7 linked regions of the Homo sapiens genome follow. The protein of the gene in region 3 purifies or fractionates together with the protein of the main gene of each other region. This does not show direct contact. Each region holds a gene or a part of one and is shown on either strand. Other genes may lie near its edges.

Region 1 (4,154 bases), on a different chromosome or scaffold from region 3:
TGTGCTTCCACTTCTCGGAGGTGGTAGAGGGGAGGCTGTCCTCTGGTCAGGAGAATCCTATTCAGTGCTCCCTTAGACATTCTTCCAGGCAGGATCAAACTCAAAGGAAAAGGAATTTGTGAAGCAAACCATGGCTTTGTCACAGTAAAGTAATTGTCACTCTCAACCCAGAATGTGTGAAGCTGCAAAAGAAGAGAAAAAACACTACAAGGATGTTCTTTTATTAAATGAAAGATCACTCAATCAACATGAGAGTTTTTCATAAATATCTTTATATGAAGTGTCTTCATACAAATTTTCCAGTTAGAATGACTCAGGATAAAACAAGATTATTTTAAATGTGTGAGTTTTGTTGACTGCTATCTTCCAAACACCCAGAACAAGGCCTGACACATAGCAGGTGTTCAATAAACATTTGTTGAATGAATGAATTACACCCAATTCTATACATGGAGCAAAAAGATCCATCTCCCACAAAGAATTTCCAACATGACATTTTATTTTACTTTGTTGTTTCACATACTAGTTGAATGCCTAACAGAATCCAGTTTCACAGTAATATGAAGGAATTAAGATTAACATATAAGTAAAATTTTCTCTTAAGACTTTTCTCATTGGTTTTTTTCTAAACAGACTATGTACATTTGCAACTAGGCTACTAAAATACTGTAATATTTAAGAACACTCACCACTGCAGGGAGAAGCTTCTCTTCGAGGAGAGCAATATAAGCCAATGTATCTGCCCCTTGTTTTGCTGAGAGTTCATAATCAGCATTATATTTCTATTAAAAAAAAATAAACCAAAGAAACTCAGAAGTCAAAGAGCAGCCCAAAGACAGTAAAACTAATCAAATCAGGATTCATATTTTTCCTTACAAATAGCAAACGTGGTATTAAAATGGGAGAAAGAGAAATACAAATCCAGTGAAACCTATTGCTTAATGCACATAAAGTTCTTAGCACAGCATCACATACACAATATGGTCAATAAATGTTACAATATTAACTACTATTATTTTCATGCTTGTTAATGACCTAGTTCAGTGCATGGCATGTAGTACAAACAAAGCAACTATTATTTTTAACAAGAAGGAAACAGTTCCAATTGGCTGTGTTTCTCCCCAAGACAAAAGAAAAAACCTTCCAATTTATAAAAGTTCAAAATGTTATTGACACAATTTTTTTAAGTACAGTATTGGCAAAACAAATAACTTATCCATTCATATAAATCTTTACATGTTTAAACATTTTGGATACATAATTCTCTACTGTTAAAACATTTAGATACATTATTCCATAAAACTGCTATTAAGAGCTTTTTAAAAATAATATAGTTGCTAGTTGGTGAGAGCTCAGGTGTCATGCCCAGCACAAAATGTGTACCAACTATGTGACAAAATACACAATCCTATCAATAAGTTTAATAGTGAAAATGGCTAATTAAATCTACTTACATACAAATTTCAATAAAATTCAAGCAAAGTTTATTAAAATATAAACTGACTACCTCTTCATATGACTTTCAAATCACAGAACTCATGCTTTAGAGCAGTGATTCTCAAATCTATTTTTACATCTTGTCCCAGGTATCTCCAATTGTCTAATGAGTTGGCAAAAAAAAATAAATAAATAAAATAAAGCCCAACATGCAGGGATCAACAATCTACCAATCTACTTCTTCAAAGTGAACCACCCACCTGTTTTCTTAAAAAGTTTAGTATTTTTGCTGGCTGAGAAACCATGTCGTCTTCAGTTGTCAAAATTGGTACATCGCCTATAATCAAAAAACAGTTTACATACAAGGACACAGTGTGATTTCCTCTGAGAGATTCCAATATCCTAAAAACTATAGCAGTTGCACATTTAGAGGGGAAAAAATGAGTAAGCTTGTCTTGGTTTTTTTGCTGTTTCACAAAGAGCGGTTCTAAAGAACATTTTCGTTTCTCATAATTTCCAGTGATTTCGCTTGCACTTTGAGGTATTACTCAGAATGATCAAACCATAAACAACACAGAGCCAAGGTCACGGTAAGAAACTAAATCCTCAATATTATAGCTATATACCTCACAGCTTTAAATGGAAGAAGAAAAAAAAGAGTGCAGAAAGGGGAGTGTAAAGGTTTACACTATACCTCTTGAACCTCTCCAGGTGTTATCTATCACATTGACTTTCAAGGGTGCACCAGAAAATTTGGCATAAGCCTGAAACAGAGTTTGCAATCAAACATTTTAGACCAAGTGCGTAATGCAAAGCTGCAGAGCAGCTTTACTTCACAGCCCCATCCCCCAAAGGCAGAAGGCGACTGATACTGAGGCCGCATCCCTCCCCGTGATCTCAAGTAGGGACGCGGGCGCCAGCCACCCGGCTTTCGAGGACTTTGCTCCCCAAAAGGTCCTGGGGATGCAGAGTAGGGAGGGCGCGCCCCTTGCTTCGGGGTTTCACTCCACCGCCCAGACAGCTTTGTGAGGCGGACAAAACTCGGAGCCAAGCGGAGAAGCCTTGATGTCGCCGCCGGCCTTCGGCGGGGGTATCGGCCAGGTTGGGACTCGTCGGTGGGAGGGAGCCCAGGGCAATGCAGCGTGCAGCGGCTCGGCCCTCCTGGACCCCGCAGCGCAGCGGGAAACTGGGGCAAGTCAGCCTGGCGCCTCCAGCCCCGCCCCTTCCTCCTGCGCCCTGGCCCGCGAGGCGGCCTCACCATCACCACCAGGGACTCGCTGTGAACCGATGGGAGTCCCCAGCCGCCTCCCCAGCAACTGAGTTCCAAGGGGGCCGCCATCTTGCGCGGGCCGACCTTTACTATCCCGGAAGTACTTTTCCTCCTAATTTCCGGCACGTGAAACGCGGGGGCGTGGCTAAGGGAGGGAAGGGTAATTTGGGGGCTCTTGAGAGATGAGAGAAACAACGACTGGAGGGATTAAGAAGAACTCTTAGGAGCAGCTTGGCCTAAAGGGTAAGAGTTGTGTGCCTTAAGTCAGACCCACCAGTAATTCTTCAAATATTAATATTTATTAGATCCCTAGAGTGTTCCAAACCCTTTGAACATTAAATCTGTGTGATGCCTAAATTAACCTGTTTGTAAAACAGGGATGACCCAGTATTTACAAGATTGTGGTATTTACAATGTCGGAGAGAAAGAACTTGGCACACAGGAGGCACTCAGTAATTGTTCAACCCCTTCTCCCATGTATGTGGCCTCTGCCTGCCTTTCCAGCCTCAACCTGTTCTCACCCTCATGTTCACTGGCACAACCCTGCTTAAAAGTTACAGTATTTCTGAACGTCAGGTAAATTGTGCCCACCTTCAGTGCTGGTCCTTCAATCTGGAATATCTTTCTTCCCTATGCAGCTGCTCCCTCAAAAATGAGCTTAACTCACCTTCCCTGTGATGTTTTTACAAAGTTAGGAGCTCTGGGTTCTTGTAGCCCCTTGTGCATATTTGAATTGTAGCTTCTCTCCCTAGCTACAGACCTTTTGCCTTTCACAGAAGAGGGCTAGCTTCATAGGTTTGGGACCTGTGCAGCCACACAAGGCTCTGTGCTTAAAAAGGCTCCTCATTTGGCTGATGCTCTTCCGTCACTGTCTTGAAATTCTTAAGTTTTGAACAAGGGGCTCTGCATTTTTATTTTGGACTGGGCCCCTCAAATCATGTAGCTCGTCATGTCTGTGGGCCTAATGAGCACAGACTAAATGTTTCTTGACGTTAAACCTGACAGTTTCTCAGAAAAACTATTAAAGAGGAAATTTTGGTCTTGGAAATGCTATGATCCAAACATATGACTGGGTCTCAGAGTTAGAACTTGGGTGCTGGGTCTTTTTTCTAGAAGGCACAGTAGTCTTTCTGGGACACCCTCGCAGTCATGCCTCTGAGTTCTTTCCTCTATTCCACTGAGATGGTCGGATCTTCTTAACTAAAACTCAAAAGAAACCTCTGCAACTTTTCGTAAAATTACTATTCAACAAATATTTGCTAGGCACTCCCTTACTGTTTACATAATCATTCAAATTACAGTGCCAGCCTGCTAAAGTCTTTTTTACATGTTTCAAAACCAAGAGTTCTAAGAAATGAAAAAGAGATATGTCAGAAATGAGAATTCATTAATAATAACTGTATAATTGGAAAATGCATAACATATGTACCATTAAAACTGTCGAAAC
Region 2 (3,500 bases), on a different chromosome or scaffold from region 3:
GGCTGGTCTCGAACTCCCGACCTCAGGTGATCCGCCCGCCTCGACCTCCCAAAGTGCTGGGATTACAGGCTTGAGCCACCACACCCGGCCCCTTTTACTCTATTAATGTGCCATTTAAGTGTGAAGTCCACTTAAGTGTGAAGTGAACTAATTTCTTTCTTAATATTTTTGGCTTCTTATGAGGAGTTTCACTCTGAGGAGGTATTTCTCTTTCGATTTAAATTTCTTTTTACTTTTTTGGTAGAAGGAACCTCCAAACTCTGCCATGAGAGTGGAAAGAGGCAACAGTGTGCTGGGCATACTCCGAGCAGCTCTTACTTGTGATATCTGATTGTCGTTTACTACCAGGTACTTCAAGGATGGGAACATGGACGTTTTGCACCCTATAAAAAGAGGAATGAAGTTACACAGTAGAAGTGAAAGTAGCTGAAGTATAGTGTGGGGGGGCAGTGGGGAACTTTACTAATCTTATATACCAATTCCAGCATCCGGAAAATGTAGAGAAGAAATTCCAGTGTCAGAGAGGATTAATTGTTCTAACCTGAAATTCAAAATGTACAATTTGATTACACAGAACAATGTAAAATGCTATGGGGTATCAACCAGACTCGGTTTGTAAATTTTTTTCCTACACCCTGGGTTTTTAATCCCATGTAAAATACTTAGAAACCATAAAGTCCAACTTAGGACATGCAAAGTGAACTCTTTATCCTGTATTCTAATGACTCCATAGTCACCTAATGGTTCTTGAGTACCTACTGCTATGTCAGGTGCTAAATGCGTCTCAGAGGAAAGAGACACGGTCTACTGCCCGGAGTTTAATGAATGAAGACTTTCCGCATTATCACCAGGGTCAAATTATTCATTCTTCAAATTATCTGGTACAGACATAGTCCACATTATACAGGGTTCACAAGTAAATTTTCTAAATGAATTCAAATGAAAATTTCCCAAAGGGAATTACTCAATTTAGAAATTCCATCATTGTTACCACGTTTCTATTGAGAAAGCATACATAGCATATGAAAACTGCTTCACTAAGAATTGACTGAACACTATTGTATCAGGCATTTAGGGGCAAATTACCTGGGCAGGTGGGCTATCAGATACAGCTGATTTTCATCAATTAATTGATTAGAGGAAAGATCTAATAACTTGACTGTCTGGAGAACATCTGTTGGCCTGTATGGAAAATAAAATTTTTTCACCGTGAATTTATCTCTTAATTGTTTTCAAAGATACAGCCTTAAAATCCCTGCATTTGGTGCGATGGAGGGCTGGGGATAAGAAGCAAGTAAATATGACTGTAAAGGGGCAACCTGAGTGGTCCCTGTGGTGATGCACATATTCCTGCCGGTATCAGTGTCACACCTAGCCTGTGATCCTATATCATAGTTTTGCAACTTGTTACCAATGGGGGAACCTGGGTCATGGGTACAAGTGATCTCTGTGTATCATTTCTTATAAAACTTCATGTGAATATATGATTATCTCAAAATAAAAAAATTTAATTTAAAAAACCTGCAGGCCAGGCACGGTGGCTCACACCTGTAATCCCAGCACTTCGGGAGGCCGAGGCGGGTGGATCATCTGAGGTCAGGAGTTCAAGACCAGCCGGGCCAACATGGTGAAACCCCGTCTCTACTAAAAATACAAAAATTAGCCAGGCATGGTGGCACGTGCCTGTAGTCCCAGCTACATGGGAGGCTGAGGCAGGAGAATCACTTGAACCAGGGAGGTGGAGGTTGCAGTGAGCCGAGATGGTGCCATTGCACTCTAGCCTGGGTGACAAGAATGAAACTCTATCTCAAAAAAAAAACAAAACAAAAAACCTGCATTTGCCTACATAATGAAACCCTTCTGTAAACGAAAATCTTTAAGATTCTGAATCCTTTAATTCAGAATCTGTTGTAAATTTTCCCACAGTTAGGTTAATTTTACATAGTAATTTAATATTATTAATTTAAAAAGGAGATGAGGCAACAATATATTTCAGAGAACAAAGTTTTACATGTACTTTGGTACAATGACCTTAAACAGATGATGCTAATGAAAAATACATTATTTAATCCTTATAGCATATCCTACAGAACTTCCATTTAGAAACAGCAAGTTGGCCAGGCACAGTGGCTCACAAGGTCAGGAGTTCGAGACCAGCCTGGCCAAGATGGTGAAACCCCGTAAAAGATGGTGAAACCCCGTCTCTACTAAAAATAAAGAAAATTAGCCGGGCATGGTGGCAGGCACCTATAATCCCAGCTACTCGGGAGGCTGAGGCAGAAGAATCGCTTGAACTCAGGAGGCGGAGGTTACAGTGAGCCAAGATCGCCACTGCACTCCAGCCTGGGCGACAGAGTGAGACTCTGTCTCAAAAAAAGAAAAAGAAAAAAAAGAAACAGCAAGTTAATACACTGATGCAAAACTAATATAACTCATGTCTTCACAAATATTTAATTCTGATGAGTTTCCTTTGATTAGAACCAATTAGTGAAATTCTAATTTGTGAAGGCAATGAATAATAAGCATTTTTCCTAATTCTTGTTTGCAAATCCTTCTAAAAATTAAGGTTAGATATAATTGAGACCATTTATTTACTCAGAATGATGATTAAATGGGGATAGATGCATTTAAGTAAGTGCTAGTTACCTTTCGGAAATGAAAATGTTGTTAGACTCAAGGTAGAGTTCCTCCAGGCCTGGGCACCCCGCGACACACCGCAGCACCTGGAAGAGAAACTCGGTTCAGGCTCAGGCGGCCTCTGCTGGCTGTTTCTTCCCGGGTGTTCATAGGAACCACCACAAGAATTCAGCTCAGTTACTGTTTCAGCAAACAAGTGCCTCACGGACAGTTCATAAGACTGTTTCAGGCCTGGAATAGTGGTGGGGGGTGATAAATAAAATGTTAAGGGGGTGCATTTTAATGCTGTGGGAGCACACACTGTGGGCACTTTGAGGCCTTGGAGGTACGTGTCAATGCATGGTTTAGGTAAAGCAGCTACGAGGTGGAACAGGAGATACTAACTGCACATATTATTATTTGATAGAATTTGCTTAACCAAAATAAGTAAATTGATGTTACACACCTTTCCTCAATTCTAAATGCCAATCTGGGTTTGTAAAGGATATGCTAATTTTTCATATCCTTTCATAAATTTCTCAACAATTATTTCTTCTTTCATTATTTTTTTAATTATACATTTTTTAAAGTTTTCATTATATATTTATGACAAATATTCTACATCCATGATTCTCTCCAATCAAAAGTTCTTTGAGATCGGGCACAGTGAGTTCATGCCTGTAATCCCAGCACTTTGGGAGGCCAAGGCAGGTGGATCACTTGAGGTCAGGAGTTGGAGACCAGCCTGGCCAACATGATGAAACCCATTACCACTAAAAATACAAAAATGGCCGGGTATGGTTGCACACGCCTGTAATCCCAGCACTTTGGGAGGCTGAGGCAGACAGAATGCTTGAGGTCGGGAGTTTGAGAACAGCCTGGCC
Region 3 (3,500 bases):
CTACAGGTGTGCATCACTGTAACTGGCTAAATTTATTATTATTATTTTTGTACAGATGGGATTTCACTATGTTGCTCAGGCTGGTCTCTAACTCCTGGGCTCAAGCAATTCTCCCATCTCGGCCTCCCAAAGTGCTGGGAGATTATAGGCATGAGCTACCACAGCTAGCTGGGAAATAATCTTCTATGCCACTAGCATATGATTGTACTGAAGCAAAAAGATACATAAAATAACCTGACAAATTATAAAACCCTTATGATATGACAATAATACACTATTCTAGTCTCTCATATTCTTGCATACTGAAAACTAATTTTACACATGGCAAAGCAGCTATTAAGATTTGAAAATTGGTACAGGATTTAAACTCCAAGTATCACTATATAGCAGCCATCAGAAAGGCTGTGTGTTTTTGTACATTTTGATTTTATACAGAACATTACATTTTACCAGGGCACCCAAGTCTTTGACATTCTAACTTGTTGATCATTGCACTAAAAGATTCCATTCTTGCCACTTCTCCAGTAGCCTAGAAAAAGTCAACTTTAGAATATATCCATGTTCTCATTTGCCAGTCCTTCAAGGACAGGACTCTGGAAGCAATCACCACCTCTACCTTACCACACCATTTAGGCTCTAACTTCCTTAGGACCTCATTTCTCAGGGTGGAGAAAATCCAGTGTTTTTTTTTTGTGTTTTTTTTTTTTTCCTTCAATAGGTATATGTTTTTTTTTATTTTTTTAATTTTTTTTTTTTTATTATACTCTAAGTTTTAGGGTACATGTGCACATTGTGCAGGTTAGTTACATATGTATACATGTGCCATGCTGGTGCGCTGCACCCACTAACGTGTCATCTAGCATTAGGTATATCTCCCAATGCTATCCCTCCCCCCTCCCCCGACCCCACCACAGTCCCCAGAGTGTGATATTCCCCTTCCTGTGTCCATGTGATCTCATTGTTCAATTCCCACCTATGAGTGAGAATATGCGGTGTTTGGTTTTTTGTTCTTGCGATAGTTTACTGAGAATGATGGTTTCCAGTTTCATCCATGTCCCTACAAAGGACATGAACTCATCATTTTTTATGGCTGCATAGTATTCCATGGTGTATATGTGCCACATTTTCTTAATCCAGTCTATCATTGTTGGACATTTGGGTTGGTTCCAAGTCTTTGCTATTGTGAATAGTGCCGCAATAAACATACGTGTGCATGTCTCTTTATAGCAGCATGATTTATAGTCCTTTGGGTATATACCCAGTAATGGGATGGCTGGGTCAAATGGTATTTCTAGTTCTAGATCCCTGAGGAATCGCCACACTGACTTCCACAATGGTTGAACTAGTTTACAGTCCCACCAACAGTGTAAAAGTGTTCCTATTTCTCCACATCCTCTCCAGCACCTGTTGTTTCCTGACTTTTTAATGATTGCCATTCTAACTGGTGTGAGATGATATCTCATAGTGGTTTTGATTTGCATTTCTCTGATGGCCAGTGATGATGAGCATTTTTTCATGTGTTTTTTGGCTGCATAAATGTCTTCTTTTGAGAAGTGTCTGTTCATGTCCTTCGCCCACTTTTTGATGGGGTTGTTTGTTTTTTTCTTGTAAATTTGTTTGAGTTCATTGTAGATTCTGGATATTAGCCCTTTGTCAGATGAGTAGGTTGCGAAAATTTTCTCCCATGTTGTGGGTTGCCTGTTCACTCTGATGGTAGTTTCTTTTGCTGTGCAGAAGCTCTTTAGTTTAATTAGATCCCATTTGTCAATTCTGGCTTTTGTTGCCATTGCTTTTGGTGTTTTGGACATGAAGTCCTCGCCCACGCCTATGTCCTGAATGGTAATGCCTAGGTTTTCTTCTAGGGTTTTTATGGTTTTAGGTCTAACGTTTAAATCTTTAATCCATCTTGAATTGATTTTTGTATAAGGTGTAAGGAAGGGATCCAGTTTCAGCTTTCTACATATGGCTAGCCAGTTTCAGGTTTAGAACGTTAAACACAATTGTTAAAATGATGTTCAAGAAACTATAGTAATCAATATTTAGAACCTTATTTCCAAAAAATGCAGAATGACCTGAGTTAGGCCATCAAGAGTTAATTACTACTCCTTCTTCCAAGAGGCCTCTTGCAATTGAAGTTGAAAAATTGGGGGCTGTGAAGGGCATACACAGAAAGAAAAAAGCTTCAACTCAACCCAAAATCACAGCTTCAAAATCTGCACTATTCAAACAGCAGCCACTTGTACTTACTGAGCACTTAAAATGTGGTAAGTCTGAATTCAGATGTGCTGTATTAAATGCATGCCAGACTTCAAAGACTTCCAAGTAAGAATATAAAATATCTCATTAATTTTTTTTTTTTTTTAAAGACACGGTCTGTGTCGCCCAGGCTGGAGTGTAGTGGCACAATCTCGGCTTACCGCAAGCCCCCCTCCCAGGCTTCAGTGATCCTCCCACCTCAGCCTCCCAAGTAGCAGGGACTACAGACACATATCAGTATGCTTGCCTATTTTTCATATTTTTAGTAGAGATGGGGTTTCACCGTGTTGCCCAGGCTGGTCTCAAACTCCTGGGCTCAAGTGATCCACCCACCTCAGCCACTCAAAAGTGCTGGGATTACAGGTATGAGCCACCATGTCCAGCCTCCCAAAGTGCTAGGATTACAGGTGGGAGACACTGTGCCCGGCCTCATTAACAATTTTTATACAAAATTCATACTGATAGTATCTTAGATATATTGGATTAAATTAGATGAACCAAAAATAATTATTAAAATTTATTTCACCATTTCTATCTTTTTAATGTGGTTAGTAAAAAAGTTTATATTACATATGGGCTCATAAATTTCTATTGGACAGCAATTTTTAGCAATTTTCACTCTCTCCAATTAAAAAAGATAGTGAAGCATCGGCAAAACCAAACATGCATTTAAGCCCTCTACTTAAAGTCTGCCTAAAACAATCTAAAAGAATCAACATATTCTGGGCCATTTATCTCTGGCACGTACCTAAAAAGCCATCATCCAATTTCAAGAATGGGAAAGTAGCTTTGAGAATAAGCTAATACAAGGTGAGTCATGTTAAAGTAATGGTTCGTCTATCTTCTGTGCATCAGAATTAACTTGTGGAGCTTTTATTAAAAATATAGATGGTCATCCCACCCAGAGATTCTAATTCAGTAGGCTGCAGGTAGAACCCGAGCATGTGTGCTTTAAAAGCTCCCCAGGTGAATCTAATAGATAGCCAGTGCTGTATAGGTCATATTTCTACATATACTACTAAATATATTTATGAAGGTGCTATTAAAATTCCCACAGGCTTTGTAATGCTACTGTGTGGCTGCTTTAGCAACATCAGCAGACAACATTGAGAATCAACACTAATGAAACTGTGGCAACAGCAAGAAGCTACTGGCACTTAGCTAAAGCCATTTCCTATGCTCCTTCCAGACAGGTTTTGCAACGTGCACAATGGAGGCAACTCCTATTTCCTTCTTCCTTCAGT
Region 4 (3,500 bases), on a different chromosome or scaffold from region 3:
AAATATACTAAAACTTACGTAATTGTATACTTTTTTTTTTTTTTTTAGACAGAGTCTCGGTCTGTCGCCCAGGCTGGAGTGCAGTGGCGGATCTCGGCTCGCTGCAAGCTCCGCCTCTCGGGTTCACGCCATTCTCTTGCCTCAGCCTCCCCAGTAGCTGGGACTACAGGCGCCCGCCACCACACCCGGCTAATTTTTTGTATTTTTAGAGACGGGGTTTCACCGTGTTAGCCAGGATGGTCTGGATCTCCTGACCTCGTGATCCACCCGCCTCGGCCTCCCAAAGTGCTGGGATTATAGGCATGAGCCACCACACCCTGCCCCTAATTGTATACTTTCAAAAGGCAAAAGTAAGAATATATGCACTGTCATGTGGAAAGATTTCTATCCAACATTCTTATTAAAAAAAAAAAAGTAAAGGAAAACTAGGAAGCTTATAAGTGATAAATCTTTGTTTTTTTGAGATGAAGTCTCACTCTGTCACCCAGGCTGGAGTGCAGTAGCATGATCTTGGCTCACTGCAATCTCCACCTCCAGGGTTCAGGCGATTCTCCTGCCTCAGCCTCCCAAGTAGCTGGGATTACAAGCGTGTGACACCACGCCTCGCTAATTTTTGTATTTTTAATAGAGATGGGGTTTTGCCATGACGGCCAGGCTGGTCTCAAACTCCCGACCTCAGGTGATCTGCCACCTCGGCCTCCCAAAGTGCCAGTATTACAGGCGTGAGCCACTGCGCCTGGCCTAAAAGTGATAAATCTTAAAGAGCTAAAAGTGATAAAACCTCTACAAATTGTTTTCCAGAACAACTCATTCCTACTGGTTCCAAAGAAACATTGTATTATGTAATGAGGTTATGTGCTGTATGCATCTTTCCTGCCCACTGCTTTCCTTTTAATGTGGAGAGGAAATAATGCCCAAGTATCACGAGTCCCCTACAAAAGCTGTATTATTTTAAAGCAAATAAACTGCCCTTTTCTGATCTCAAAAATTTTCTGGCGTTATCACAATTCAGAAAGAAACATTCCAAATTTGGGTGTCCAAAATAATTTCAAATATCCAGAGCCATAAAACTTGAATGACTCAATGACGACATGGAAAAACTGAAACCTAAACATAGAATGAGTGCCTATCAAATTATGGCCTTCACTTTTAAAAGCCATCATAATACCTCTGTAATTCCTTACTAGTGCAGAGAGAATACAAATGCTCCTCTGCACAGCATTTGCTATGGAACTCTCATAATCTTTTACATGAACTGGGATTATGCATTCTATAGGACAGAAGCCAAGTTCCACACTTAAAAACACTTATTCTAATCGTTAAATTCTTTTTTTTTTAAATAAAAAAAGAAAAGAAACCCTAGGTTTCTGTATTTTACTTTTTCAGATTTACAAATGCAAATCATATATTAATATTCACAGATATTTTTAAATGGGAAAACAACTTACTTTCAACAACTTATTTTTTCCAACAGCATGTTACTATGTTAAAAAAGATTTGACATTATAAGCCGAGCGTGGTGGCTCAGGCCTATAATTTTGGGAGCATTTTGGGAGGCCGAGGTGGATGGATCACCTGAGGTCAGGAGTTCCAGACCAGACTACCAACATGGCGAAACCCTGTCTCTATTAAAAATACGAAAATTAGCTGGGTGTGGTGGCAGGCACCTGTAATCCCAGCTACTTGGGAGGCTGAGGCAGGAGAATTGGTTGAATCCAGGAGGCGGAGGTTGCAGTGAACCAAGATCACGCTACCACACTCAAGCCTGGGCAACGGGGAGACTCCATCTCAAAAAAAAAAAAAAAAAAAAAGAGATTTGACAGTACATTCATTTAATCTGGCAATTTTAATTTGAACAAATACCTATTAACAACAAATTAAATCCTATTGCACATGAATTATTTGTTGCACCACCACCAGATTTTCTAATTCTAGCAGAGGCCACGATGAAATAGGCCAGACATGCTGCCATTAAAGTTTGCTGGGATGATTGTAATAAATCTACTGAAAGTATTCAAGTTCTAACTTTCAAAGTGATGTAGAGAAACATAAAAGATTTCACTGTATCATCTAAAAATATAACTGTTTTGTCTGATCATTAAATTCTGATTTGCATTTACTCTTTGTATATATTCTAGAAGAAATCCTTCTAAAACATTTAATTAATCATACCCAGTTCCAAAGAAACCGTGAGTCAAAAGGGAAAGACAAGAAGAATTAGACACAGAGTAAACATGTAGAGAACATGTTTTGCTGAATTCAAATGCTTTTGCACAAGTATGGTGAGTGTCCTTTATTCCCAGCACGGGATGAAAAACAGGACAGGAAGCTAAGAGAGGTCTTGAATTTGGGTTAACTTAATTATTTGGTTTAAGATTAATTTTGGAATGAGATACAAAAAAAAAATTTTAAGTTTAAATTACCTAATTTTAATTTGATTACCTATTTTACCTGTTTTAAACTGTCTATTTTATATTATTCATGCCTCTGTATCTTCCTTATTTGGATAAAAATTCAACTTCCTGGCCGGGTGCAGTGGCTAACACCTATAATCCCAGCATCTTGGGAGGCCGAGGCAGATGGATCATCTAAGTTCGGGAGTTTGAGACAAGTCTGACCAACATGGAGAAATCCCATCTCTGCTAAAAATACAAAATTAGCCAGGCATGGTGGTGCATGCCTGTTAATCCCAGCTACTCGGGAGGGTGAGGCAAAAGAATAGCTTGAACTCAGGAGGCGGAGGTTGCGGTGAGCCAAGATTGCGCCATTGCATTCCAGCCTGGGCAACAAGAGTGAAACTTCATCTCAAAAAAAAAAAAAAATTCAACTTCCTATAAAAAACTAAGCTCTGAAATAAGCCGGAGATTCTAAATCTTTCAACACAAATCTGAGAGACTAAACCAAGTCCAGCCAAACCTAATCTGTTGCTGTCCCTCTCTGCCTCAAACTAAATAGTTTCACCAAAGCCTAAAGGCTATAAGCCAAATTTATGAACATGACTCTCTCCTTCTCCAGCTTTATCATCTCTGGGCATTCTCCCTCACTCCCTCAGATGAAGAACGGCTGGACTGTATATATATGTACACAGTATGTGTGTGTATTTATACCCTTTTTTTGTATTTATGTTTCACACACAAAAAAATTATTTTGGCCGGGCACGGTGGCTCATGCCTGTAATCCCAGCACTTTGGGAGGCCAAGGTGGGTGGATCATGAGGTCAGGAATTTGAGACCAGCCTGGCCAACATGGTGAAACCCCGTCTCTACTAAAAATACAAAAATTAGCTGGGCGTGGTGGAGCACGTCTGTAGTCCCAGCTACTCAGGAGGCTGAGGCAGGAGAATCGCTTAAACCCGGGAGGCGGAGCTTGCAGTGAGCCAAGGTCGCGCCACTGCACTCCAGCCTGGGCGACAGAACAAGACTCTGTCTCAAAAAAAAAAAAAAAAAAAAAATCTTAAAGAAGAAACATAAGAGATTTGTTTGTGAAAAGCTGAAACAAAT
Region 5 (4,085 bases), on a different chromosome or scaffold from region 3:
AGATGCTGTCAACTTGTGACATTTGTTTATTATCCTTAGCAGATTTTCCATGTGCAATTCAGAGAGGCTAACTTGCCCAAACACACAGCTTAAAGTTAGACCTCAATCAGAGGCAGTTGGTTTCAGAAGCCAGGCTCTGAACCACATTAATATATCTGAAAAAAAACATGATTTCTCATGCAACTTCTATGATTACAACAACAACAACAACAATTCTGAGTAATGAGCTAGGTCCTATTACCAAGTAACACATCCTTTCCTTGCCTATCTCCCAGCCCAGGGATATTCCAGCTATGGAGTTTGGTGATCTGATTGTTTTCCATGTTCCTAACCGTCAAATCCTGATGTGATATTGGATTCAGACTAGAAATTATGAAGCAGGCACACAAAGCACCTTTATATATACCTCAATAACTTTTCCCCCAGAAACAAAGATATTTCTTGGCTGTTTCACTGAAACCTGAGGTTCTGTAGTTAGCTCATAGGGAAAAGTCAGTCACTATTAGAGTAGGTTGTTATCATCACCTTCTGTTCTTTTAACAATTGTCAAGTACTTTTCACATTTATCAATGTGTTCTTATCACATTCATTAACTGCTTCATACCAATATTTTTAAAATATTACTTGCTTATCCATGTATTTGAAGCTAAAACAATGATCACAATCAGATCTCTAGACAATGGTTGTAATGAATTTGTTCAAGAAAAGCATTCAAATTTGATGGAAAACTGAGCCTTTATAATTCATTCTAATTCTTCAACACAAAAATGAACTTTGGTAAATCAATAGGATCAACTGAGGCATTTATGCTTGAATGTGCTCCCCTAAGCTTAATGTATTTTTCCTCACTGCATTATATTTTAATGATTAATTTCATGCTCTTTCATGGTATTCTAGCTCATGAATCACGGGTATTACTTTGAGGGAAAAGTAAGGTGCTGTGAGTGATGAAAGATGTTACTGATTAAAGTGTTGCACATATGAACTACATAAGAGCTGAAGGTGTTTGAACACCAGCAATCTAGATTAAAAGTAATATTAGGCAAACTGGCCATATAGACTAAGGTTGAATTGAGTGGAGGGAGTGGGAAGGATGGGCTTCTTAAATGTTCTTAGTTGAAACAATATATGAAATCAAGCTTGGCATTCAATGTTTCACTGGCATCTTTCTCCTCAGTAGAATGTAAGAACTGATTTCGAAGACAACTGCAGAGAAAGAAATCAGTTAAGCAGATAACACACCATTCTGAAATTAAAGAGCCAAAAGCCACCCATCCTAAGTCAACTCCGATATCTTAAATCAATACTGCCTTAATACTGTCAGAAGCTTGTTTTTCGACTTAGTAAATAAAATTTTTTAAAAAGTTAAGTCAAAGTCACAAGGACCAAAAAGGAATAGACTACCCTAAATGAAATATAGAAAAAGACAAGTATCTATTATCCTGCACACAGATGAACAACTATTTGTTAAATATATCATATTGCTCAATATCAAAAAGTCAACTCTCCAAAACAGAAACCAAAAGTAAACTAACCAGAGATGTCCACATAATACACTTTGGCTCTTGTTACTAAAATGATTTTTCAAACCAAGTTATGGAGCCTGGAGAAAACAGGACTACTTCCTCCCAGAATATAAAGTTTCTTCAATTACGGAGGCAAAATGTGGCAAAAGCAGCTATTTTGCAAACAGGTGGTTTGCAAAACTTTTACTTAAGCCGCCAAAAGGACTGACGAAAGGAAAATTTTGTTATTTCTAAAGAAAACACACACACACATAATTTTCTACCAGAGTAGAAGACTCAAATAAAGAAAAGCCCCAAACAAAACAGAAAACTAAAAATCAGTTTGTCTTAGCTCAAAAGTGCTGACCTAGGTTTAGTATGTGTAAAATCACTGTTGATAATTAAATCCTTTTCATCGCATATATTAAGATACTAGAGAGAAAGGAAATGCCATGTCGTTTCAGGTAGGACCTTATTTACATAAAAAAAGATTTTTTTTAACAGAAACGGAGTGCAAGAGGGAATCAAAAACCGTTGAGAGGAGAGAAAAATACAGTTAGTTTTTCTGAGGGCACTGCATTTTTCATGTTCTGAATACTTCGTTCCATTCTCTCCATGTTAAATTATTTCATAAACAATACTATGACTAGAGGCGACTGCTACAGCTGACACACAGATGTTTTATTTCTATGCTTCACCTTTGCAAATAGCAGGATTCAGCTATTGGAAATGGGGGCAGTGGAGGTGTCCAGAAACGACATACAGGAGGTGAAGGGGTAGAACGTGTGGGAAATGGGCACTCCTACCCCCTAGAGTCCACCTCTCTGGAACTCCAGTGCTTCTTCAGTCACTGACATTCAGAGGAGGACAAGACAGGCTTCCTGAAATCTCTTCCGAAGTAAACAGGTCCCGACGCAAAGGGCAACCCCTCCAGTAGCGGAAAGTCCTCCCCTGAGCTCCCCGCCTGCCCACGCGGGCCTGTGGCTCCGCGCTCCTCCGCTCCCCCGCAGAGCTCCCACGGGGGAAACTTTCCCGCGTCTCTCACTCTCCGGGGTGCGGGGGCCGCGGGGGCCTCCCCGGCACCTACCCGCAGAGCACTCCCCACCACCCCGCCACCACCGACGAGCCGGCGCGAAGTCCGTACCTCGATGTCCGCCGAGTCCTTACTGAGCACAGGGGCCATGGCAGTGCCTACAGTCTCGAGTCTGCCAGTGACAAACCCTCCTTGCGTCCTCAAGCTCCAGCCAGAGAGCCAAGTGACAGCAGCCGGAGCGCGAGTCGAAAACAGGCAGACTAGGGCCGGCGGCGCGGGGGCGGAGCGGGCGCGGGGCGGCAACGCCCCCGGGGCGGGGCTGCGCTCTCGGTCCTGCGGCTCCCGCGCCAGGCACGGCAGCCGCAGCCCGGCCTTCCCAGTTCAGCCCGCTCCGCGCCCCAGCCTGCAAGCAGAAGGGAGGGAGGGAGTAGAGCACCCGCTCTGGGGACTGGCCTTTAATCTCTAAACTGCTAAAAACAGAGCTAGGCAGGCGGGGCCAGATAGGAGGGATCCCCAGGCAAAGGTAAAAGCAGTCCGCGCTCCAAGCAACAACTTGCACTTTTTCTTTTCTTCCACAGAAACCCCGCGAGATGTAGATACATTGTTTGAGGGGCAACTGCATTTTCAGGAACTCCTCAAGGATGAAATAGTAGATGTTCCTCCATCCATCCACCAAGTAGGTGGGCGGGGTTTGAGCTGCAGTGGAGGATACCAAAGCACCGGTCTTCTGAGAGTTCACAGCCCCAGCGGGGAGGGGAGGGAGGCGAGCAAAAACATCCACAGCCCGCAGCAGCATACAGGAAGTGCTGCAGGTGGTACATAATCAAGGTTGTCTTTTTGCAGGAAAGTCTCATTTTAATGGTTATTTTTTTAAATATTTTTTATTCTAAAACGTGAAACTCTTTTGAAAAGTTGCTCTTCGTTTTTGCTCTAGAGCTTGCTGAGGAGAAGGGAGAGATTTCCTGTAGAGTTGGTCCCAATCCAGAAAACATTCACCTCGTTTTTTGAGGATATGTGTACTCCAGACCTCTCTCCTTTTCTCCCCGCCCCCCCCCCACCCCTGTTAGATGCATCCCACCTCTCTTCTACCATAACACTTTCTACTTCCGTTAGGACATTTGCGGCACTCCTTCATGCACTTGGCTAGGTAGTGACACCTTGGAGTCAAGTATTTCTCCCTTATTATTTTTTCATTAGTCCATTCATCGTTTTATTCAACGAATATGTTTATTGAGCATTTTCAATATGCCAGACACAGACACTGTGCTAGGTTCTCCGGATATAGTCTTCAAGAATACACATCACTGTCATGGAGATTATACTCAAAATAAGCAAGTAAGAAAATGTGATGCCTGCTTGTAAGATAAAAGAAAAATAGGACAGAATAACTAGGGTATGGGTACCTTGCGTGGTTGAGAAGGCTTCTCTGAACAAACCATCAGATTACCTTCCAGAACCTGGAAATTACTAAAAGACAGATACATTTTTCTTGAATCAAATATTAACAGACACTAGAAAGTTAAATGGAAACCTTAGAATCATCTTTG
Region 6 (2,857 bases), on a different chromosome or scaffold from region 3:
GTAGATCCAGCTTTCATCCTCTGGTCATTTTAATTGACAACTGTAATCTTAAGAAATATCAAACCCAACTGCATCACACTACACAGTCATTTCTCTTCTGCCTGTGACTGCAAAGATCCATTTCTGGAGATCTGTTTGCTCTGAGGAGGAGGAAAGAAAACGCAATGTGGTCCAAGGACTATGTGGTGACCTCACAGTGCCATTAAGCCTCAGGTTTTCTCTTTTCAAATCTTAAACAAGCGATTCCTTTCTTTTATTTACTTTCTTTCTTTTTGAGACAGGGTCTCACTCTGTCGCTCAGGCTGGAGTGCAGTGGTGTGATCTCAGCTCACTGCAACCTCCACCTCCCGGGCTTAAGTGATTCTCCTTGCCTCAGTCTCCCAAGTAGCTGGGATTACAGGTGCCCGCCACTATACCCAGTTAATTTTTGTATTTTTAGTAGAGGCGGGGTTTTGCCATGTTGCCTAGGCTGGTCTCAAACTCCTGACCTCAGGTGATCCACCCACCTCGGCCTCCCAAAGTGCTAGGATCATAGGTGTGAGCCACGATGCCCAGCCCTTCTTTTACTTTAAAAGGATGCACACTGCTTTAGGCAAACATGTGAAAATCCTCTTTTACTCAAGTAGGTCAATTAGGAATTTGTCCTTTGCTGAAAAGACTAACCTTTAAATAGCCAACTCCCATAGTGATTGAATTTATAAAAGTTCCATGAATGTAGTACTCACTGTGAATAACTCTTTTTATACTCTTAGGGTGTTTATCATTTGGGGATCATAGAGAAAAGAGAGAAGTGTCAGCTCTAAGACAAAATTTGAGAGCTCCTGGATGTTATGATTGATAATCAAGGAACTCTTGCCACTGCCTGAATTAACTACTTTTTGTTTTTAATTTTTTGTAGGTTTAATGCTTGTTCATAACAAGTTGGTGGACCCCTTGTACAGTATCAAAGAGAAAGAAACTGAGAAAAGCCAATCTTCGAAGAAACCATACAGCGATTAGCCTGTGCTGGGACCTAGTGTCAAGTACCCATAGGGAAAGGCAGGTCTTTCTGGAAATTGTCTTTAGAAGAAAGAATTGTATTTCTTTAATCTAGTATGGTTACTCCAGATAAGTGGGTGAACTTATTGTTCTTGGCCATGAGGCTGGGAGCCTAGTCACGGAGTTTAGCTATAGGGAGAATGTTTGTAACTTAATCAGAAAAAAAATATCTGCAAAATGTACTCCATCATTTTGATGTCTGCCAAACCCAGGTTGGGAGTTTTAAACTTTTTGTTCTGCTTCAGCCATGGTTCACACATATGACACACTCCCGTCAGGAATTTCTCTCCTTACACGCACTGATTTTCAAGTGGGAGGGAATTAGGGGCTTATGTATATTGGATACCACCTCTTTGAAGAGTCTTGAGAGTCCTTCTTGCACAGGCCTGCCCCTTGGTTGAGAACCATTGTTCCAAGTGAAGGCACAAACTCTCAATATCTAAAATAAGTGCAAGGAAGCAGTCTCTTTGGTCAGTAACAAGTGCAATGGAAAGAAAACGATCCCTTCCTTCTTCCACTTTCACAGCTTTTCTCTGAACTAGGAGAACCTGGGGGTGGATTTGGGTGGGTGGGGCCAAAGAGGAGGCTTCTATTGATAAATCCAGAGCCTCAAGGGGCCCAGCCACGTCAAACTTCTCTCCCTCAGGGACTCTCCAGCACCAAAAGGCAGAAGGTGGAAGCCGTTTTTCCCCCAGAGCCCTGTGTTTTTGTGAAAGCCTCACTGTGGCTCCTCTGTTTTACATACTCATTAGTAAGTGGGAGGTCCACTGGGGCAACAGACACTGCCACAATTTCAGTGTTGTGTTCAGCCAAGGGGACGGTCTGGGCAGGCAGCTTAAGTGTGAGTTTAGTCACAACTCCTGAGTGTCCCGCTCTCCTGCTTACCTAGGAGGTGAGTGCCAGGAAAATACACCAAATGCTTCTAGTATTGTTTCCCCACTTAAAATAGTCCTGCTTAAATTCACATGGTGTGGTCTGATGTTCTGAGAGCATCAGGAAATACAACCCTTTTGCCCATTTACCCTTCTCCCCGGATCCCAAGGTGGTCTGTTGCTCTGGCTTCCTTTCATTGTCTTAGGCCTTCATGGAGTGGATGCTGCCTCCTCCTGGCTGTTTTTGTGCCTGTTTGAAGCTACTGCTGCCTCCATTTCTGGGAAAGACCTTTGAGAGCCTAGCCCAGGCCTAAGGGCTATGTTTGGTACCAGTGTTTTGTCTTTAGCTTTTCTATGTGATTGTGCCGTCATTCTGTTTTAAGCTCATGGATCAATGGATTTGTTTACAATGTGATATTTTCTATTAAATCCAGTATTTTCAAATAACATGTCATTTGTGGATTTGAGCCCCCAATTTTAGAAGACTCTCTGGGCTATTTATATATTTTAGAAAGAGCTGGTAAGCAAAGCCTCACATTCAGTCCTCACAAGAGCCTGCAGGAAGGCCACAAGCATAGCAACCATCATCAGAGTGAAAAATAAGATTTTATGAAAATGGAGCACTTACAGGAAAAAGGGTAGGAATGAACAGATGAGCAATAAATTGTCATGTTGGGGCTGTACCTGAGATCCAAACGAGGATACAGCTGTTATAAAGATTAAGGCAGATTTGTGATGAGGGATATTATTGCAAGGTATGCAAAAATACATATAGGTTTTTTTTTTTTTAAAGTTAATATAATGGAATATCTTAGGGCAATATAGCCAATTAAGGAGGTAGATATAGAAGTTAAAAGAAGGGTTTAATTTTTTTAACTATTTTGAGGCTGGGTGCAGTGGCTCATGCCTATAATCCCAGTGCTTTGGGAGGCCAAAGCAGGAGAATC
Region 7 (3,500 bases), on a different chromosome or scaffold from region 3:
AAGTCTCAACAATACAATCATTGTTAAGAGTAAAAAGCTGCAATTAGCACTAATGAACAAGAAAGACCGAATCAAATGCTGGGTTTCTAGATGAGCATCGTTTGGATTTGGGCCATAATTTTAACAGAGGAGACATTCACATTTGTCCTTGCCCTTGTTCATATTTTTCTTTCCTGTGCTGTTTTATTGATCTGTCTTGAGGTGGCCGTTCTCTTCCCTGTGTCTTTGCATTCTTGCGGCCTGTATATGGCTTTTCTCTCCAATGTACAGGAAGCAGGTAGTGAGCCCCTGAGCTTAGCTCTAGCACTGCCCTGCTTGTTTGTAGCCATTAACTTGAACTTATTCTGGTCTATATGCCACTGGGGGACTGGCCATTATTCTATTAGAAGATAAGGGCTGTAAAGCAGCACAGGCGTTGAATGATCCTTTTTAAAATCCCAGTGGGACATTTAGGATGACAGTAGGAACTACCCTTTTATCTGCCTTGGGAAAGGAGTAGAAAGAAATGTTAGTAAAACCCACCCTGGAGTCTTGGCACAGAGCTAGCCCCCTCCAGTATCCATTCCTCTAGGGTATCTGAAATTCACTAAAAGTCTCTCCTATCAGAGATGATCAACCTTTTTACATATTTACAAAACACAGCTAGAGAGTTGTTTGATAAAGCGTATAACTTTGCATGCAGAGGCTTATTCACATGGCTCTACCCATCCCTTTTTTTTCCCCTCAGTATAGTATTGTCTTCCTTATTCTTCTTTCTTTTTTTAAAAATTCAATTATGAACACCTTTCTCTTTCTACGAATTTATATTCTATTGATACAGCCCCCTCCATGAGAAGTCCAGAAGAGGTACCTATTTTGCAATTTTCAGAGAATAGGGGTCAGTCCTTATCTTAAAAAACCATGTTTTAGCCTTAGAATCATCATGGCAGGTTTCTCAAATACTGATGACCCCACCCATTACTGGGAAAGAATCTCTCAGTGCGGGGGCTGGCATCTGTACTATGATGAAGCTACCTTGGTGATTCTGATGTGTACCTCTGGTTAAGAATCTCGATGTTCAAACAGGCTCCTTGAGGGAGGGGAGGGAGGGAGAGACCTCAACTTTGCTCATGCTGTGTTCTCAGTGCCAGCACAGTGCCCGGCATAAAAAAGACGCCTAATGCCCCTCTGAGGCTTTATTTCCTTAGCTTCCAGGACATGTCTGCTACAGAGTGGGTGCTCAAAAAATATTGAATTATTTGTGACTTTTAAAAAACTTGGATATTAAAAAATTTACAACTGGCTGGGCATGGTGGCTCACACCTGTAATCCCAGCACTTTGGGAGGCAGAGGCGGGTGAATCACCTGAGGTCAGGAGTTCTAGACCAGCCTGGCCAACACGGTGAAACTCCATCTCCACTAAAAATACAAAAATTAGCTAAGTGTGGTGGCACGTGCCTATAATCCCAGCTACTTGGGAGGCCGAGAGGTGAAGGTTGCAGTGAGTCAGGATCACGCCGCTGCACTCCCGTCTGAGTGACAGAGCGAGATCTGTCTCAAAAAAAAAAAAAAAAAAAAATTACAACTCCTGCTGAAATGTCAAATCTCAACCTTGGCCTGAACTTGGGAAAAGACAAGGTTTTTTTTTTTGTTGTGGTTGTTTGTTTGTTTTTGTTGTTTTTTTTTTGATTGCTTAATGGGGATCTGATATTACATGGGGATCTGATATTTGCATTTAATTAAAAAACCCACATTTTAATGAATCATAGTAAACTGGTTTTCTTTATAAATCTTGGCAATTTACTCACCATGTACAGCTGACTCACTTTATCTTGACACTTGACATAGGCTTCGTAGTCTGCAAAGACTTTAAACCTTTTATTTTGTGAGTGGAAGAGGAAAAAAACAGTCAAAATCTTCATTAATAGATATATGCTAAAATTCCATGTAAAATCATCTTTTGCTTAATATCAGGCATGGCTGGTTTACCAAATTCATATTTCTGTTTGTAAGACTTTTAACCAGCCCTCAACCTTCTTATGGTTCTCACATGTGAGAATGTCATCACTGGGATGCATTTGGAAGTTGGGAATATCAGTGGAAGGAGAAAAAGAGAACCAGATTTGTGTGTGTTATTCTTAAACCTTACTGGCATCGCTGGTGGAGAATATCTAACTTTTTCCCCAAGCCTAAACTACCTGAGCAGATCACGCTAATCTATGCTAATCTACATGAGTGGGTTTAAGTTGGTTTAAGATTGGTTTAAGATTTTCTTGTTGGTTTTAGAGTTGGTTGGTTTAAGATTTTCTTGTCCCCCTTTCATGATCCAAATAGCACCATCTTCTTATGGGAACTCACCTGTCATGATAAAATAGCATGTTGATGATATCTTTGAAGAGGTCAGGCTGCTTGGGAGAAAAAAAGCCATTGTCAATTTGATCAATGACCAGCTTCAGCTCTGGAAGTGCCTCATAGTATTCTTTTGCCTCGTACCTGTGGGGTAGGGGTGGGTGGGTGATAAAAAAAGGCTCTGTTATTGTGTTGTGTGATTAACAACACACTAGACACTGCATTCACTGTGAAAAAATACATTCAGAAATACTAGCATTCAAAGACTTCATTATAGATTTCACCATGAGTATATATAACTTTTAACTAGATCTGTAAGTTTTTCTTCCTGTAAATTTGATTCCTTATAACCAAAGACACTAAGAACAATAGATAATGAAAACTCTAGTCAAACATCAAGAGTCTGATGTGGTAGAATACAGCAAGGTCCATTTCAAAGCAGACTTTATGGCTTTAAATGAACATTGTATTAAGTAGATCAGTTGCTTTTTGGATCCACAGATTCTCAAAAGTTGTTGCTACTGAGTGAAACTGACTTCCAAGGGTCAGGAAGTATATTCAACATCCTCCAAATGTTACTTCTTTGGGCAGTACTCTTTATTTTGTGCTTGAACTCAGGTTAATAAACCCATCCAGATATGAAGTGAAAATAAATGTTTCCAATTACTTCTGTACACCCGTATCTATTCTCTATCACATTTTAGTGCATTTCTTTGATATCTTAAAGGAGCACTAGATCATGATTTAAATTATAGGCAACCCTTCCAACTAGAAACTGGTTCATCTTTTGATCAAAGTAAAAATCATACATACGGAGGAAAAATAGCTCTTTGAGGCCAGCTCTGCAATGGCCGATAACAAATAGCAACTCCTCCATGTGTCTGTACTTTTATTTGCTGGGTTTAATAATATTAATCTGTGGCCAGGAGGCTCTCCTGCCTCATCGTGGGAGATGTTCTGCTGCCACCTCTTATGTGATCCAATTTCAGTGGGATATCGGTGTGGGCAGGAAGCCCTCTGAGGTCACATACCTTCTAGGGGGGAGGGGCAGTCCTGCCTAGCAAAGAGAAGCTATTCTCTTACCCTTTCTTGTCCAAAGCAGCCACATCATCTATCCTCATGCCAAAGATGAACAGGTTCTCTTCCCCAGCTTCTTCTGCCATTTCCACATT

The links.
Region 1: the proteins of TRNT1 (region 3) and MTX3 purify together in Homo sapiens (affinity purification with mass spectrometry; one large-scale study listed by BioGRID and IntAct). This does not show direct contact.
Region 2: the proteins of TRNT1 (region 3) and TBCE fractionate together in Homo sapiens (co-fractionation; one large-scale study listed by BioGRID). This does not show direct contact.
Region 4: the proteins of TRNT1 (region 3) and CLNS1A fractionate together in Homo sapiens (co-fractionation; one large-scale study listed by BioGRID). This does not show direct contact.
Region 5: the proteins of TRNT1 (region 3) and DPYD fractionate together in Homo sapiens (co-fractionation; one large-scale study listed by BioGRID). This does not show direct contact.
Region 6: the proteins of TRNT1 (region 3) and GNPDA1 fractionate together in Homo sapiens (co-fractionation; one large-scale study listed by BioGRID). This does not show direct contact.
Region 7: the proteins of TRNT1 (region 3) and PYGL fractionate together in Homo sapiens (co-fractionation; one large-scale study listed by BioGRID). This does not show direct contact.

Annotation. Positions count from the first base shown.
Region 1 is NC_000005.10:79,988,463-79,992,616, forward strand, and holds the start of MTX3 (metaxin-3), read right to left. Parts: upstream 2,801-4,154; 5' UTR 2,777-2,800; coding exon 2,696-2,776; intron 2,202-2,695; coding exon 2,132-2,201; intron 1,775-2,131; coding exon 1,698-1,774; intron 783-1,697; coding exon 690-782; intron 183-689; coding exon 1-182.
Region 2 is NC_000001.11:235,433,427-235,436,926, reverse strand, and holds part of TBCE (tubulin-specific chaperone E), read right to left. Parts: intron 2,724-3,500; coding exon 2,647-2,723; intron 1,183-2,646; coding exon 1,087-1,182; intron 542-1,086; coding exon 477-541; intron 384-476; coding exon 319-383; intron 1-318. UniProt on the Homo sapiens protein: Tubulin-folding protein; involved in the second step of the tubulin folding pathway and in the regulation of tubulin heterodimer dissociation.
Region 3 is NC_000003.12:3,129,940-3,133,439, reverse strand, and holds part of TRNT1 (CCA tRNA nucleotidyltransferase 1, mitochondrial), read right to left. Parts: exon of another isoform or gene 2,761-3,500; intron 1-2,760. UniProt on the Homo sapiens protein: Nucleotidyltransferase that catalyzes the addition and repair of the essential 3'-terminal CCA sequence in tRNAs, which is necessary for the attachment of amino acids to the 3' terminus of tRNA molecules, using CTP and ATP as substrates. tRNA 3'-terminal CCA addition is required both for tRNA processing and repair.
Region 4 is NC_000011.10:77,631,295-77,634,794, forward strand, and holds part of CLNS1A (methylosome subunit pICln), read right to left. Parts: intron 1-3,500. UniProt on the Homo sapiens protein: Involved in both the assembly of spliceosomal snRNPs and the methylation of Sm proteins.
Region 5 is NC_000001.11:97,918,235-97,922,319, forward strand, and holds the start of DPYD (dihydropyrimidine dehydrogenase [NADP(+)]), read right to left. Parts: upstream 2,801-4,085; 5' UTR 2,689-2,800; coding exon 2,650-2,688; intron 1-2,649.
Region 6 is NC_000005.10:142,000,171-142,003,027, reverse strand, and holds the end of GNPDA1 (glucosamine-6-phosphate deaminase 1), read left to right. Parts: intron 1-898; coding exon 899-999; 3' UTR 1,000-2,357; downstream 2,358-2,857. UniProt on the Homo sapiens protein: Catalyzes the reversible conversion of alpha-D-glucosamine 6-phosphate (GlcN-6P) into beta-D-fructose 6-phosphate (Fru-6P) and ammonium ion, a regulatory reaction step in de novo uridine diphosphate-N-acetyl-alpha-D-glucosamine (UDP-GlcNAc) biosynthesis via hexosamine pathway.
Region 7 is NC_000014.9:50,906,484-50,909,983, forward strand, and holds part of PYGL (glycogen phosphorylase, liver form), read right to left. Parts: coding exon 3,412-3,500; intron 2,473-3,411; coding exon 2,338-2,472; intron 1,855-2,337; coding exon 1,788-1,854; intron 1-1,787. UniProt on the Homo sapiens protein: Allosteric enzyme that catalyzes the rate-limiting step in glycogen catabolism, the phosphorolytic cleavage of glycogen to produce glucose-1-phosphate, and plays a central role in maintaining cellular and organismal glucose homeostasis.